2 separate regions of the Homo sapiens genome follow, and region 1 is linked to region 2. Evidence: fine-mapped expression QTL. Tissue or cell type: monocytes after LPS. Region 2 holds a variant in brackets; the other region holds the start of a gene. All regions are shown on one strand. Distances are between the middles of the regions.

Region 1 (8,088 bases), 26 kb before region 2:
TATGTACCTTCGAGAAACTCTTATAATAACAAATTATGTACATGAATAGATGCATGGTTTTTGACAGCAAAAACCTGAAAATAACTCACATGTCCATTGTCAATAGAATAATTTGTGACATGATCACATGATGAAATACTTCACAGCAATACAATTAGTTAACTATAGCTACACAGAACATCAGGTTGTATTTCAGTTGAGTTAAACGAAAGCAAGTTGGCTGGGCAAGGTGGCTCACCCCTGTAATCCCAGCACTTTGGGAAGCCGAGGCAGGTGGATCATGAGGTCAGGAGTTCGAGACCAGCCTGGCCAATATGGTGAAACCCCGTCTCTACTAAAAATACAAAAGTTAGCCGGGTGTGGTGGCACACGCCTGTAGTCCCAGCTACTCAGCTACTCGGGAGGCTGAGGCAGAAGAGTCGCTTAAACCCGGGAGGTGGAGGTTTCAGTGAGCTGAGATCAAACATACTGCACTCACTCAACAGAGTGAGACTCCATCTCAAAAAAAAAAAATAGAGAAAGCCTTAGAATGATAAATACAGTACAATTCCACTTACTAAAAGTTCAAAAATACAAAATGATTACTACATAAAATAAAGAGAGTGATAAATATAAGGTAAAGATTGTGGTTGATGATGGTGGGGAGGGAAGACAGTGTAATCGGACAGGGATCTATGCAGTACTTCAAGGATAACAGTACTAGTCTGTTCCTTCAACCATATAAGGTTTCAAAAGTATACACTGCATTATTTTTTACACCTTCACATTTTTAATAAATATTTTTATCTACTCAATTAAAAATAAAGAAGAGATAAGCATTAGTCCACTAGTGACAAGCCAGGAATGGCAAAGGAGGGCATCCACCACCTAATTGGTCTTGGGATGGGATGAGAGCTGGGATTTGTCCCATCTCCCCCTGAGTATTCTGAGGTGATCCTGATGGAGGAACTTACTCAATAAACCGAATCTCAGTCTCCATGAACAAACAGCAGACCCAATGTTGCTTTTTCCTCGCAGTGAATCACATCTATTCTAAATAGTTCATTGATTAAGCTTCAAGCGAGTAAATTTTCCCAGCAGCTTAATGGAAATTTCAGTGTAAAGAACTTGATAGCTTCACCCCAAATCTTCAGAAGGCCCCTTGCCTTCCATATTGACAGTGGGGTCCTGCAAGGATTGCTGCAGATGGTATAGGGGAGGGTCTCTATCCAGGTAAGATGCTATGGTAAGGACAGTAAAGGAGAAAGGGTGACATAAGAAGAGAAAGATATCATGATTTGTTTAGAAGCCCCTTAGCCTCTGCCTAACCCTGAGGGTCTATGTTTTATGTAGTTTTAGGAGTGGCGATGCATCTAAACACATTTTATTTGTTTAATTCGTACACCTGTAATCCAGCACTTTGGGAGGCCGAGGTGGGCAGATCACGAGGTCAGAAGATCAAGACCATCCTGGCTAACAGGGTGAAACCCCATCTCTACTAAAAATTCAAAAAATTAGCCGGGCGTGATGGCACGCTCCTGTAGTCTCAGCTACTCGGGAGGCTGAGGCAGGAGAATGGCTTGAACCCTGGAGGCAGAGGTTGCAGTGAGCCGAGATCGCGCTACTGCACTCAAGCCTGGGCAACAGAGACTCCATCTCAAAAAAAAAAAAAAATTATTAAGGCTAGCTAGGCTTTTCTTCCTCTTCTGAGGCTTCACATCACATCAGCTGCAAGGCTTACTGCCTCACTGCCTTCCCCAGCACCCATATTCAACCACCCCTGGACTCCCTGGGGCCACCTGCACAGAAGCGTATGCCTCTCGATAATGGAAATTTTATTCTAAATGCTTATTTTAGACTCAGAAAGATCCACTCTCTTATGCCCGTGTGGTTGATATGTCTGCTCTGACCTGTGGTTTTTGCACAGTTGAAGGGTCATACTGTCCCTCTCTCTGCCTTCAAGGAGGACCAAACTACCTTCCCCCATTTCTCTCTCTCTCTTTTTTTTTTTTTTTGTGAGATGGAGTCTCGCTCTGTCACCCACACTAGAGTGCAGTGGTGCAATCTTGGCTCACTGCAACTTCTGCCTCCTGGGTTCAAATGATACTCATGCCTCAGCCTCTGAAGTAACTGGGACTACAGCCATGCACCACCATGCCCATCTAATTTTTTTTTTTTTTTTTCAGTAGAGATGGGGTTTCACCATACTGGCCAGGCTGGTCTTGAACTCCTGACCTCCAGTCCAGTGATCCGCCCACCCTGGCCTCCCAAAGTGCTGGGATTACAGAGGCATGAGCCACAGTGCCTGGCCTACCTTACCCCATTTCTGATGGCTCATTTCATCTCCAAATAACCTACTGGAGGCCTGGTGGGTGTTATGATGACAGAAAGGGGAGGAATGTGGCCACTGTGAAAAGACACATGGGCCCTACCATTAAGTAGGCCTCAAACAAATAGCAAACATTCAGAGGCAGGGACAATGGTTCCCAGGAGGCCATCTGGAACGGAAGGGAGAGGCTGTAGCCTCTATATTGCTCCTATTCCTGAGTCTCCTCAGGTTTCTCAAGATATCGGATGCCTCCTATCTCTAATTTCCTCAGGATCAGTGGCCTGAGCTTTGGCTATGAGCCTAAGCCCTGAGCTGACTGCTGGATCCTCTGGGAATAGATTTTCTTTTTCCTCTACTCTTTCCCAGTGGATTCTCCCTGCCTTGTACTCATATTTCCACTGAGACTGAGCAGACTTAGTCATGCTCCAGAAATAGAGAGCTGACACGAGTCTAGAGAAATTTGCATGCAAATTTGTGTGGGCTTTGGATAGTCAGAGCCTACTAGAGACTAATCTGATATCTAACTTGGTGCCGTGACTAATCTTCCTTCTCTGTCTCGCTACCTTCTAGTCACTAGAAACATATAAGTGTTGGAATGGGCAGGACATTTGAATTCTCATCATTGATTCTCCAGTGATTTTCTATTGGCCTTCAAACAACATCCCACCTTCTGTCCCCAGTTGCATCACCAGTGAAAAGGGTGGTTGTTGCACTGACCTTTCCCAGAGTGTACATGAAGGCCAGCTGGCTATCAGACAATGACATGCTTTGACAGGCCCCTGAGCTCTGTGAGTAAATTCTTGAACAGCTGAGAGTGCTACCATTTTGTCATAGCCCTAAGGGTGCAGATGATGCTGAAAGCGTGTTGGCCAAATCTGAATGATGAAAGCCAATTACAAACTAGAAAATGAAAACAGACCCCAGATGCAAGGAGATGAGACAGTTAAATTTACTTCCTCTTTTCTAATCTGAGAGGTTTCATGTTGAAGAAAATCAGTGTTGGGGTTGCAGGAGACCTAAACACAGTCACCATGAAGCTGGGCTGTGTCCTCATGGCCTGGGCCCTCTACCTTTCCCTTGGTGTGCTCTGGGTGGCCCAGATGCTACTGGGTAAGTAAAATATTTGAATATTGGTGTGGGAATGGAGCTTTGCTTACCTTGGGAGAAAGGACCAGAAGGAAAGAAACATGGACTAATTCTGGCCCTCCAAAGAAGCAGTATTCAGGTGGAATAAGAAGGGTAGGTATAAGAAAGTTTGGTGTACAGGATTGAATTACTTTCTGAATATAAAAATCTTCCATCCTGAAAGTCCCCTCTGATCATGATATCCTCTCTAGCTCTAATCTCAACTCTTTTCTTTCACTTGTGAGACAAGTTTTCTTAAAAGAATAGTTTGCACTTGCTATCTCCACTTCCTCACTTCTCACACGCTCCTCAATGCTTGCAGCCTGGCTTCCACTGGAATTGGTTTTGTCTAGGGCACAACGATCTCTATATTGACTGGGTTATGGCATGCTTTTCAGTTCATATCCTGCTGGACTTCTCTGCTGCACTGGGCTCTGTTGATCACTTACTCCTTCTTGCATTCTCTACTACCCTGGCTTCCATGGCACCATTTTCTCCTTGTACTACATGGACTTCTCTTGATCCCTTAATAGCTTCTCTTCTCTTCCCCTTAAACACTAGTGTTCTCTATAGTTATAGCCTTGCCTCTGTACTCCTCTTTCTTTACACAATCTCCTTCATGAGCTTATTTGTCTGTTTAATTTTTGCCACTATAACTCTGTATTTAAGAGTCCCAAATCATATCCCCAACCCTAACCATGCTTTTGAGCTTCACATTCAAATATCAAGCTTCATACCAGACATATCTACCTACATATCTCACAAGTGTCTCTGCACCATGTGACTAGAGTTGAACTTATCTGTCCTTTTGGCCCCTGCCTCATCTAATTCATTTTCCACTTTCTGATCTCAGCTAATGACACCAGCATCTACCCTTACAAGGCCATAAACCTCAGAAACAACCCAGACTCTTCCTTCTTTTTCATTCTCTAAATCTGATCAATCATTAGGTTTGGCCAATTTTACCTTCTAAATTGTTCATAGAAGCAGTCCCTTGCCTGGATCATCACTAATGTCTTAGGACAAGCCCTCATCCTCTATGACTTGGGCTATTCCAGTAAATTCCTAACTAATCTCCTCGTCCAAACCTTGTGTTCTTGAAATGAATTCTGTACCCTGCAGACAGAGTAATTTCTAAAACTCAAGTTTACCAGCCCAAATTCTTTATCATGGCACAAAAGGCCAAGCAGCCTCTACTTTTACCCTCTCAGCCTTGTAACTTATGCTCTAATAAATCTCAATCAGTTCATATTTACATACTCACACACCAGACTCTTGCCTGTCTCTAAGGCTTTGCTTATACCACTATCTCTACCTGAAATGAGTTCTTTCCATGGCACCCTACTCTCCTTCTCCTTGCAAATGTGTAGGTACCCCTAAAGACTCAGCTTAAATGGTATCTTTTCCAGGTAGCTTTTCTTGAATGCTTCTTTCTGCTCCAATGGCTGCTTGCGATACATTTTTCTTATTATAATATTTTCCTACTTATGCTGAAATAATATTTTCATCTACCTGTGTCTTCCACTAAATTGAGAGCTATTTGTGGGTAGTGACAATGTTTTTTTGTTTTTGTCTTGTGATAAGAACTGCAGACTTGGAATCAGATACTCCTGTTTCAAGCCCCTCTTCTATTTACCAGCTCTATGTCACTTTAGAAAATCACTTTTTCTATTTCTGGTTCAGTTTTCTCATTTGTAGAATGAAAATAATAATACCTACCACCTAAGGTTTATTGAGTGAGTTCCCAGTAACCCAACAAGATTTTATTTTATTTTATTTTATGTTTTGAGACAGGGTCTCGCTCTGCCACCCAGGCTGGAGTGCAGTGGTGCAATCACTGCTCACTGCAACCTTGACCTCTTGGGCTTAAGCAATCGTCCTATCTCAGCCTCCCAAGTAGCTGGGACCACAGGCAAGTGCCACCAGGCCTGGCCAATTTTTTAAAAAATTATTTGTTGAGACAGGGTCTCTCTATGTTCCCCAGGCTGGTCTCAAACTCCTGGGCTCAAGGGATCCTCCCACCTCAACCTCCCAAAGTGCTGTGATTATAAGCATGAGCCACCACGCCTGGATAAGATTTTATTTTTAAAAAGAAAAAATGGAGAGGAGGCAGAGCACAGATGAGTGACAGTGGAGGAACTGAAAAGAGGTAGCATTACAGTGAAGGGAGCGGAGAAAGGATGGAAAGAAAACACCTGGTACTGATGTGATGAGAATTAGGAAGTAGGGAGGGGTCTTGGTAAGGGACATGACAAAATCAAAGAAGAACGCTGGGCTATTGGGAGTGGAAGAGAATAAAGGCAAGTGGGGCACGAAATGACAGTCAGATGGAGTGAAGAAGTATGCACATGTGAATGGCCATGAGGCTGGAGGAGGGGGAGAATAGTTAGGGAGATAAAGAGCAGTCCCAGAGAAGGGAGAAATGTCACTTCCCTTGCCTAGGTCTACCATGAAGGTAAGAGATAGGTTGAGGAGATGTGGTGAGAAATGGATAATTCTAAATTTCAATCTGGAGCAAAGAATTGTTCCACAGTTACTAATATGGACTGGGAGGAGGGGAAAAAAGACAGAGAAAGCTCTGTGCCACTGCCAGGGAAAATTCAAGTGGCAGAGGACATTAAAGTAAAGATGGCTGAAAAGTGAAGACCTGCAAGGGGGAGGAAGAAAGGAGGAGAGACACTGCTGGGTACTGAAAGCTCTTTGTTAGATAACATATTCAAGGCTGAGGAGCCAAGTGAAGTTTGGGAAAATCAGAATATGAAAGAAAGTCCCCGAGGAAGGTCTGAGGACTGAAGTAGACCATATTTGCACAGTGAAGTAAAAAGAACATTGATTTTGGACTCAGACACACCTGCCTTTCCCGATCCATTGCTTAGTCTCTTTTTAAGCTTTGGGTATGTTAATTTGGTTTTCTAAGTGTGTTTCTTTAAGATTATAAAATGAGGATAAAGTCACCTACCTGGAAAGTTTGTGAGGATGAAGTTAGATACTGCACACAAGTGCTAGCAGGGTCTGGCACCCAGTGAACATTAGAATCTGATGTCTCCCTTTCATTCCTGTCCTATGCCTCCCTGCTTCGAGTTACCATTGTCTTTGCTCCTGGTTTCCCGTACCAGCAGCTGGATGTCATGCCGGTGAGTTTCACCATTCTTTCATTCTCTCCCCTCCCTCTTCTCCAAACCACAGTGCATTTGCTGAGAGCACCTGGACGCCAGTGAATCAAGGTCAAAACTATCCCCCTGAGACACTCTCAGGGGTCTTTCCGAAAAAAAAAAAGGTTTTGATGTCTTACTAGTCTCATTCTAAAAAGGATGATTATCCTGGGAGATGGAGGAACCCTGTCCTCTTTCTCCAAGTTGCATCATCATTTTCTGGTTCTCCCTGGGCCATGCCCTCTTCAGCTGCCAGTTTTGAGACGCTGCAGTGTGAGGGACCTGTCTGCACTGAGGAGAGCAGCTGCCACACGGAGGATGACTTGACTGATGCAAGGGAAGCTGGCTTCCAGGTCAAGGCCTACACTTTCAGTGAACCCTTCCACCTGATTGTGTCCTATGGTGAGGTCCTGGGAAGGCCTGAGCAGTGCCCCAAACCCCTTCTTTCAGCCTCAGAGCCCACCCAGGAAAGTGTCCCTAGGAAATTGGCTATGGGATGAGGTACTTCCTTCCCAGTCTTCAGCCCACAGCAACCAGGGTGCTCTAAGTCCTAGGCCCTAGGGAAGTTGTCCCATACTCCCAACCAGGGGTGAGAGTTTACCTGGACCCTCAGAGAAAGTTTAGGGGAGTAGGCATGCTTGGGGGTGGCCCCCAAGGGAGGCCCTGGGTGACACTCAGCTCTTTCTCTGGACCATAGACTGGCTGATCCTCCAAGGTCCAGCCAAGCCAGTTTTTGAAGGGGACCTGCTGGTTCTGCGCTGCCAGGCCTGGCAAGACTGGCCACTGACTCAGGTGACCTTCTACCGAGATGGCTCAGCTCTGGGTCCCCCCGGGCCTAACAGGGAATTCTCCATCACCGTGGTACAAAAGGCAGACAGCGGGCACTACCACTGCAGTGGCATCTTCCAGAGCCCTGGTCCTGGGATCCCAGAAACAGCATCTGTTGTGGCTATCACAGTCCAAGGTGAGAGCTAGAAGCAGCATTGTCATGGCAGGGGAGGGTAAGGAGAGACAGGGAGCCCAAATTGTCTTTCTTTAGCCTGGAGGTAGCAAGATCATCAACAGACTATGGAGCAGGTTGCTGGCAAATGCCCAAGTTGGGCTTCGAAAGGGACGAGACCTCAGCCTTTTGAAGTCATCCAGCCCCACTCAGAGTCCAGCATAGTTCCTACCACCCAGATCTATGCTTCCTAGTGCTCACTGATTGGGTGTCTGGACAACTATCAGATTTGCCCATCTGTGGATCTTTCCTAGTCCTGTCTACTTACAGAAAGAACTTGACAGATTCAAATGGAATCTAAGAGAGCCCATTCCTGCTGGAAACAGGGGAAAGGAAGTATGACTCCCCAAGTCTCTTCACCTGCATGTGTCTACCTGTATATAAGATGGCTGAGCTCTTCTTTCCTGCCTATCTTTTTCCCAGAACTGTTTCCAGCGCCAATTCTCAGAGCTGTACCCTCAGCTGAACCCCAAGCAGGAAGCCCCATGACCCTGAGTTGTCAG
Region 2 (8,106 bases):
AAAATTAGACAAGAAGAATCAAACTTATCTCAGTGGATCTTTGCTTAACTCTGAGAGATATGTCCAGGTGCCTATAATTCAGTTCTGGGGTCTTGGTCTACAAGGGCCTTTGTGGCTCTGATTTCCAGCTTTCTGATGCAGGCTCATCTCACTTCTCAGAACTCTCTTCCAAGGCCACCTTTCCTAGCTAACTGCACTCTATTTCAGTGCCCAGGCTCTTTTCCCCTTCTGATTTTGTTTCCCTGAGATTTCTGCTTTTTTTTTTTTTTTTTTTTTTTGAGACGGAGTCTCACATCTCACTCTGTCACCCAGGCTGGAGCAATCTCAGCTCATTGCAACCTCCGCCTCCCAGGTTCAAGTGATTCTTCCACCTCAGCCTCCCCAGTAGCTGGGATTACAGGCACCTGCCATCATGCCAGGCTAATTTTTGTATTTTTGTAGAGACGGGGTTTCACCGTGTTGGCCAGGCTGGTCTTGAACTCCTGACCTCAGGTGATCCACCTGCCTCAGCCTCCCAAAGTGCAGGGATTACAGGCTTGGGCCACCGCGCCCGGCCGGTTTCTGCCATCTTGATATAGACAGGAAGTGACTAACATTAGTGGCAAGAGGCTTAGTAATCAAAGAATCTCAGGTCATTTAAAAAATCAGTTGATCATTTTTTAAGAGTACAAAAAAGAGAAATAGTTACTCAAAGGAGAGCTAGGGCAGCAGTATCTCTTTCATTCACACCTTTTTGGCAACATCAACATCCTTGTTCTTGTTTTGCCATCTACTTCCATTTAGAACTAGGATGCGGGGGGATGGGGAAGAACAAGGACTTTTTGGTGAGAGTGAAAATCATTCATGACTCAACTTTCTGGTGTAGGGGAGAGGAATTGACTCATATGGCCTGTAGACTCCACTGTCTTCTTCGTGTACCCCAGCTTTTAAGAGGAGGGCAGGATCAAGATGATCTTCTAAGATATCTGTTATTGATCTCCCAGGAAGACCTGCATTAAGGAAATATCAGCTTCATCTTCATCCCTTTTGTTTGAGGTTCCTACATGCATTTAGGGAAACCAGAAGGCTAGCTAGCCCAGGTTGTCCAAGGGGACTCTCAGAGCTCATTCCCAAACAGCAGGGATGGCAGAAAAATGCTGGAGAAACCTAGGGAGGAATCTGCTTCTCTCTGATACTCTGATCAGTTTGGTGTCTCAGACTTAGGCTGCAAACCCTAATCCTGCGGCTGTCCATAGCAGATGCCAGACAAGGAACCCCAATGTCCGCTATCAGAGAGCAGAAAAAATTCTGTCGCATTCCCTTTGGATTTCAGCCTTACTCTTTAAACTGTTCTCCTTGAGTCTCAGTTTTTACTTGACCTTACACTATGAAAGGGGGATCTCTTTGGGTTTGTAAACCAAAATTAAAATTCTAAGCCCCCCCAATAGACTGAATGGACCCCCCTCACAACCAAGAAGATTTCAAAGAAACCTGAAAAACCAGTTTAGTCCACGAAGGGAAGTGGGGGATTGGACATGCCTAATTATACCCTCCCCCTTTTGGAGTTTAGCACAACTGACCAGCATAACATTAAAATAGAGATCCTAAGACTGACAGAACTGACTATGTAGCAATAAGATACCAACTCCAACCTGACTCTGAAAATCAAAGTATTTTACCCCAAACTATATTTCTTTGACATATTTTGAAATGGCCCTGCAACGTTGTCTCTTGTGGGGGAAATTTACATTCCGTAGAGAATCCTCTTCCCTCTCCAGGTCTTTTCCTGATCCAGAAGAGATGTAACTAAGAGTCTGACATCTTTTAAGGTCAGATAAGAGATATTCACTATCTATTCTCTCTGAAGTCTGGAGGTTTCACCTACATGAGAATAACCTTGGCTTCCAGAACCGCTCCCTTCCCTTAACTCAAGCTGACTTCAATTCTTCAGGCATAGCTTATCTCTTTCAACGAATTGCCAGTCAGAAAATCTTTGAATCCACCTATTACCTAGAAGTCGCCCCCTCAACCCGACTTTGAGATGTCCTGCCTTTCCAGGCCAAGCCAATGTATACCTTACATGTATTGATTTATGTCTTTGTTTGTAACTTCTGTCTCCCTAAAATGTATAACACCAAGCGTAGCCCAACCAAATTAGGCACATGTTCTGAGGAATCCCTGAGGCTGTATCACGGGCTATGGTACTTAACCTTGGCAAAATAAACCTATGAACTGATTGAGACCCGTCTCAGATGCTTTTTGGTTTATAGGTTTCACACTCATGGCTTTTTTCCTAAGAGATTGAATTAAATTCTCTAGGTTAAAGTCCAAACTTCCCATCACAGTATATTGAGCCCATTCATCATATATTATGGCCACAATGACCACCTGCTCTTTCCCCAACACACCACCACCTTTCATGACTTTATTTTTGTATATATTTTTGCTTCAACTGTTGTAGAAGGGCTGCACAGGCCTTCTGAGCCCAAGATTCCTCATTTGCAAAGTGAGGGAAATAATAGTAACCTCACAGGGAGAGACAAACAAACAGATCCTTTCATCATTAGAGGTTTTAAAACAGTTGATGATAAGAAGCACAGAGGAGAGATACTAAGCCCAGTGTGGGGGTCCAGGAATCAACTTCCTGCCAGTCCCCACCGATAAGCTATTTGTTTCTAAACTTGTGCTGTTTTAAATTATGTTGCAATGAATATCTTTACATCTGTATCTTTACGCACATATCTGAATATGTCTGTAGGATAAACTCCTAGAAGTAGAATTGTTGCATCGAAGGATATGTGTCTTTTTAGAATTTTAATAGATGTTGCAAATTATTTCTCAAAGAGAATGTACCAATTTGTGCTTCTACTAATTATGAAGGTGAAAGCTTGTTTCTCTTACCTTGGTCAAGAGAGCATATCATTGTACTTTTATTTTTTAATTAAACCCACGAAAACCTTTTGACTATCCAGTGTTGAGTGTCCCTAGTCAGATCCCGATAGATTTACTATCCTGTGCCATACAGCAGTCCAGTGGTACAGTCCCCCAAGGGTCAGTGCACTTATTTGTAATGCTAACCCATCCAACTCCTGAATTCCTTGCTAGCTGTTCTGTAGTTAGCTCAAAGAACTGCACTTCTGACTGTAATTCCTTATTAAATACCCGTTTTCTGTCCATTAGAGCTCTTATTCCAAGCTAGATCATTGTAGTCCTTCGCGAGATTTTCAGCATGTACTATAGTTAGCCCATATTGGTTTAGTTTGTTCCCTAGTCACTCTACCTGCAAAGATAATTGGTTTCAATGTTTGACATTCTACTTATAATGAGAATCCTCATATAAATGTACACGCCTGATAGAGCTGAGACTAAAAAATTGGTACAACACACTACTGTCTTTTTCAGTTCAAAGGCGTCAGTCTCACTGCAGTGTGGGAGATGATCATTCTCTCATCTCTTAACAGTAAATATACCCTAGTGCATCATGTTAAGTTGTAATAGCCAAGCTAATTAGCTTTGGACCTAGAGATGGCAGAGTTGTATAAAGTTAAGAGTCTTGGCTCAGGAGTCAATAGACTTGGGTTCGAATGTTGCTTTTACTACTTAACAGCTGTGTAGCTTTGGGCAAGATACATTGTCTCTGAAATTCTGTTTCCTCTTTTGTAAAACGGAATGATAATAGTACATGCCTATAGAATTGCTAGAAGGATTAAATGAGATTTGTAAGTAGTACATCTAATACATAAGAAGCAGTAAACTGTTATTATGACTGTAATTCATTGAATCTAAAATGATATTAATTATAGGATACACCATTAAAGAAAGCATAAGAAAAGGGAAAACATGGCTAAATAACTACACAATGTCTTTTAGACTTAATTAAAATAGACTTATAAAATCATAAATAATGAATAAACAGGGAAACATATGTGAAATAAATTGGGTAAGATACTTCTAAAATGTTTTTACATTCAGATTCTGACTTTTCTGAATCACTTTCCAACTCATATTTATCAGTGCCCATGTTTCCTCACTCCTGTGACATCTTTTCTATGAAAATCATGGGAAGTGCTGCATTTCTTAAAGGAAGTCATAAAAAAGTAACAGTCGTTGTTGCCAGACTTTTAAGCTGGTTTTATAATTATCTGGAGCTAACTTGCTTTTGACTTCTGCTC[C/T]AGGAATGTTGCTACACAAGTCTGATTCACCACCCACCCCATTTTTCCCACAACTAACAGTTGCTTCACTGTTGTCTCTAGAAATTTTCTCCAAGCTGCTTACACCATTTTGTAAATTTTGATGCTGGTATTTTAATGTTCATATAAGCAATGAAAACTATAACAAGACAGCAATTATTAGATACATCATGATTTCAGAGATGTTAAAACATTGTTTAAAAAAGTCTTAGAATATATAAAATAAAATAAAAAATCCTGAGCTCTAGGCAAACAAACTTCAAAATGTCTAGGAAAAAAAGTTACATATAGTCCTACATGTGGCCAGAGACTAAAGGTGGACATCTTTCAGGATGAATTGGAGGTCCTCAAAAAATCTGAAGGGGAAAGTAAAGACTGTTTAGTTCAACCAAGAAACCATTTATTGAGATGCTTCAGGCTGGGCATGGTGGCTTATGCCTGTAATCCCAACACTTTGGGAGGCTGAGGTGGGCAGATCACCTGAAGTCAGGAGTTTGAGACCAGCCTGACCAACATGGTGAAAACCAGTCTCTACCAAAAATACAAAATTAGTGGGGCATGGTGGCACGCACCTGTAATCCCAGCTACTTGGGAGGCTGAGGCAGGAGAATTGCTTGAACCTGGGAGGCGGAGGTTGCAGTGAAGCGAGATCTCCCCATTGCACTCCAGCCTGGGCAACAAGAATGAAACTCCGTCTCAAAAAAAAAAAAAGAGATGCTTCTAAATTTTTCCTGCCATGTGGCCACGCAGCTGTGCTTGACTTTTTGTGAGAATGTGGCCTTCCATTACTTCCCAAGGAAAGCCCACTCTTATCTTTGGACAGCTCTAGAAATTAAAAAGTTCTTCCTTACTATAATGAGCAAAATGATTTTGTTGTAACTTCTACTCACTGTACCCCCTTGTGTTACACAGAACAAATCTAATTTCTGGCCCTCTTGACAGGCCTTCAGATAACTAAAGACACTGCTTAGCTCATGCCTATGTTTTCTTAAAGGTATACTATTTCATTCGAATTTTTTTTTCCTCAGGGTTTTTAACTTTTTCAAATTTGGAATTCCTTCTCCATCCTGGCCTTTTTATTTTTATTTTTATTTTTGCTGTTAACCTATTTTTATTTTGTTTTATTTTTATTATATTTTAAGTTCTGGGGTACATGTGCAGAACGTGCAGGTTTGTTACATAGGTATACATGTGCCATGGTGGTTTACTGCACCCATCAACCCGTCATCTGCATTACGTATTTCTCCTAATGCTATCCCTTCCCTACCTCCCTAGCCCCCAACAGGCCCCAGTGTGTGATGTTCCCCTCCCTGTGTCCATGTGTTCTCATTGTTCAACTCCCACTTATGAGTGAGAACATGCGGTGTTTGGTTTTCTGTTCTTGTGTTAGTTTGCCGGGAATGATGGTTTCTAACTTCATCCATGTCCCCCCAAACCACTCGTTTTTTAAATAGCATATCTCCAGTTTTAAAATTTGGGACCCATGACTTACTTACCATGTTCCTCAGATGGATGTGTCCAGGGAGAATACGGCAGGAAGGCAGGGTTTTATTTTTATTTTGTACAATTAAACAATTGTACTTGTGACAGGATGTCAGAAATGATATTTCAAGATACAGTGGACATGAAATTCTGAAGCTGGATCATCATATGAAGAATTTACAAAGGAAATGGTTGAGGATCTATCTGTTCCTTGACTTTTGGACTCTGAAATCATGTCAAGGGATAAAAAGGGGCCAGGATATGGAGAGGAGAGAGGATCTGTGAAATGATTTATTTGCCATATTTCCCCTTCATAGTGGGGAGGCATGGGAAGCTTACCTCCTCATTCTCAAGCCTAATGAGAAAGATACCCATGGAATCACCCAGGTAGGTCTGAAATGTATTCTCTGCAGTAGGGAGATACAGGGAACTGGGCCTGACTTAGGCTTGAGAAAGTTAAAGTGAGCTATGGTGGTAGGATAGAAGAGCCTATTTTAGGATTAGCCAGCCCTACAAAAGATCCAGGAGCCACATCTATATATATTTCTGTGGCCTATGAAAAACAGAGTGCTTGCTGGGCACAGTGGTGCATGCCAGTAGTCCCAGCTCCTCAGGGGGCTGCAGTAGGAGGATCGCTTGAACCCAGGAGTTCTGGGCTCTAGTGCACTATGCCCATTGGGTATTCATACTAAGTTCGGCATCAATATGGTGATCTCCTGGGAGCAGGGGATCTCTAGATTGCCTAAGGAGAGGTAAATGGCCCGGGTGAGAAATGGAGCAGGTCAAAACTCTGTGCTGACTAATAGTGAGATAGCACCTGAGAATACCCACTGCACTCCAACCTGGCCAACACAGAAAGACACTGTGTCTTTATAAAAAGAAAGAAACAATAACAATAAAATTAAGAAGAAAGAGACCTAGTATGGGGTTGCCTTGGTTCCTGTACTATAGGGTCACCAGGAGGGGCAGATAAAGGCACCAAAAAGCTGGAGTTGCATCTATATTCCTAGGGGCAGAGGAAAGAGGTGCACTGGAACACCTGGAGGAGAGATGCATCTGCCTTGAGCACAACACCCTAAGGAAACAATTCCCAGAAATAAACATCCAAAAAGTCTACAAAAATGCTCATGGGAGAACAAGTTAGCTTTAGCCACCTGTCAAATTCAGAGAGTAGAAAGCAGCTCAGCCAAATAACTTTCTGTTCCCTTACCTATTCTCCCTTTCTTCCCTCTGCTCTCCTACTTTGGCCTACGTGAGAAGCAAACAGACGCTAATGAGAGGAGGAGGGGATGTGGAGAGAGAGAGAGAGAGGGAGAGAGAGAGAGAGAGAAACACCAATCAAGTCCCTTCCCCAAGTCAACACCTTAAATGGATAAGTAAGAAGACAGACTTACCTTTGGATAAAGACTGGAGGTCTGATTAACATCTAGAATGGGCATCCTGATTTAGAAATTGAAACTATACTTGTAGCCTAAAGTCATTATAAGACTCTCCATTACCTAAAGAAGCAGAAAAATCATGGCTATTTGCAAACTTTAATGTACACATGAATCACCAGGGCGCTGGGTGATTCATGTGTACATTAAAGTTTGCCAATATCCACGGCAAATGCAGATTGTGATTCAGTGGTCTGGGGTGGGGCCTGAGAGTCTGCATTTCTGAGAAGCTTCTAATTGATGCCAATGTTGAAGGTTCTTGGGCCACACTTTGAGTAGCAGGGTGCTGTGAGCCAGGGAGGATTACCCACACTGAATACATTTTAAATTGATTTTGAAAGATAAAAGAGCTACATTTTGATCAGGTAATGAATTGTGCTTTTAACATACAAGTTACACTTTATTTAATTTTTCAAACATTATTATGAATATAGTCTATTTGAAAACTTCATACTGTATTAAAAAAATGTTAAGCCTATTTTTCTTGCCATCCTCCCACCCACTCCCTCAGTGGGTTATAGATGTAACCACTATTTAACAATTTGATGTGCACTCTTCCAGGCCTTTTATTTTAAAAAAGAGCTTTTTAAGTATATTATTATATTGATCAGGATTCAATTTCAGAGAACAGAATTAACTCTAGCTGGATTAAGGAGGAAGGAATTTATTACACAGTATTTAATAGCTTACAAAATGGTTGGGAGAGATGAAGAGACAGACTGTAGTTTGTGTTCTCAGCAAAGTTTCCCAATATCAGTTCAACAAGGGAGTTGCTGCCTCTTCTGAGATCAGAAATTTGCCAGCCTTGGGTCACACAGCCATTGCTATGATTAAGAAAACAGTCACGATAGAAGAGACACTGCTATTGCTACGGTGCCAAGACCATACCTGTCTTCTATGGTCCAAGGAATGGATGCTCAGGGCCCTGCCCCTAGCAACACAAAGCTAGATCCTGGACACTAGGTAGGTACTATTGCTGGTAAAGAAAAACCAAAATCTTTCTCAACCAGGTTTCCAGA

Evidence for each region. PIP is the estimated chance that this variant, and not a neighbour inherited with it, causes the effect.
Region 1: it holds the start of FCRLA, and the variant in region 2 is fine-mapped to the expression of FCRLA in monocytes after LPS (Fairfax 2014, PIP 0.91).

What each region holds. Positions count from the first base shown.
Region 1 is chr1:161,703,926-161,712,013 of GRCh38, forward strand. It overlaps FCRLA (Fc receptor like A), which reads left to right and starts at 3,304. Exons shown (of 5, transcript NM_032738.4): 1 at 3,304-3,418; 2 at 6,835-6,987; 3 at 7,283-7,549; 4 at 8,009-8,088. The coding sequence starts at 3,340. RefSeq lists enhancers at 1,840-2,059, 3,600-3,779.
Region 2 is chr1:161,729,584-161,737,689 of GRCh38, forward strand. It overlaps the pseudogene RN7SL466P. Among named protein-coding and RNA genes, the nearest start is that of FCRLB, 12 kb to the left of the region's middle. RefSeq lists an enhancer at 6,518-6,627. The variant C/T (reference allele first, on the strand shown) is at 4,152.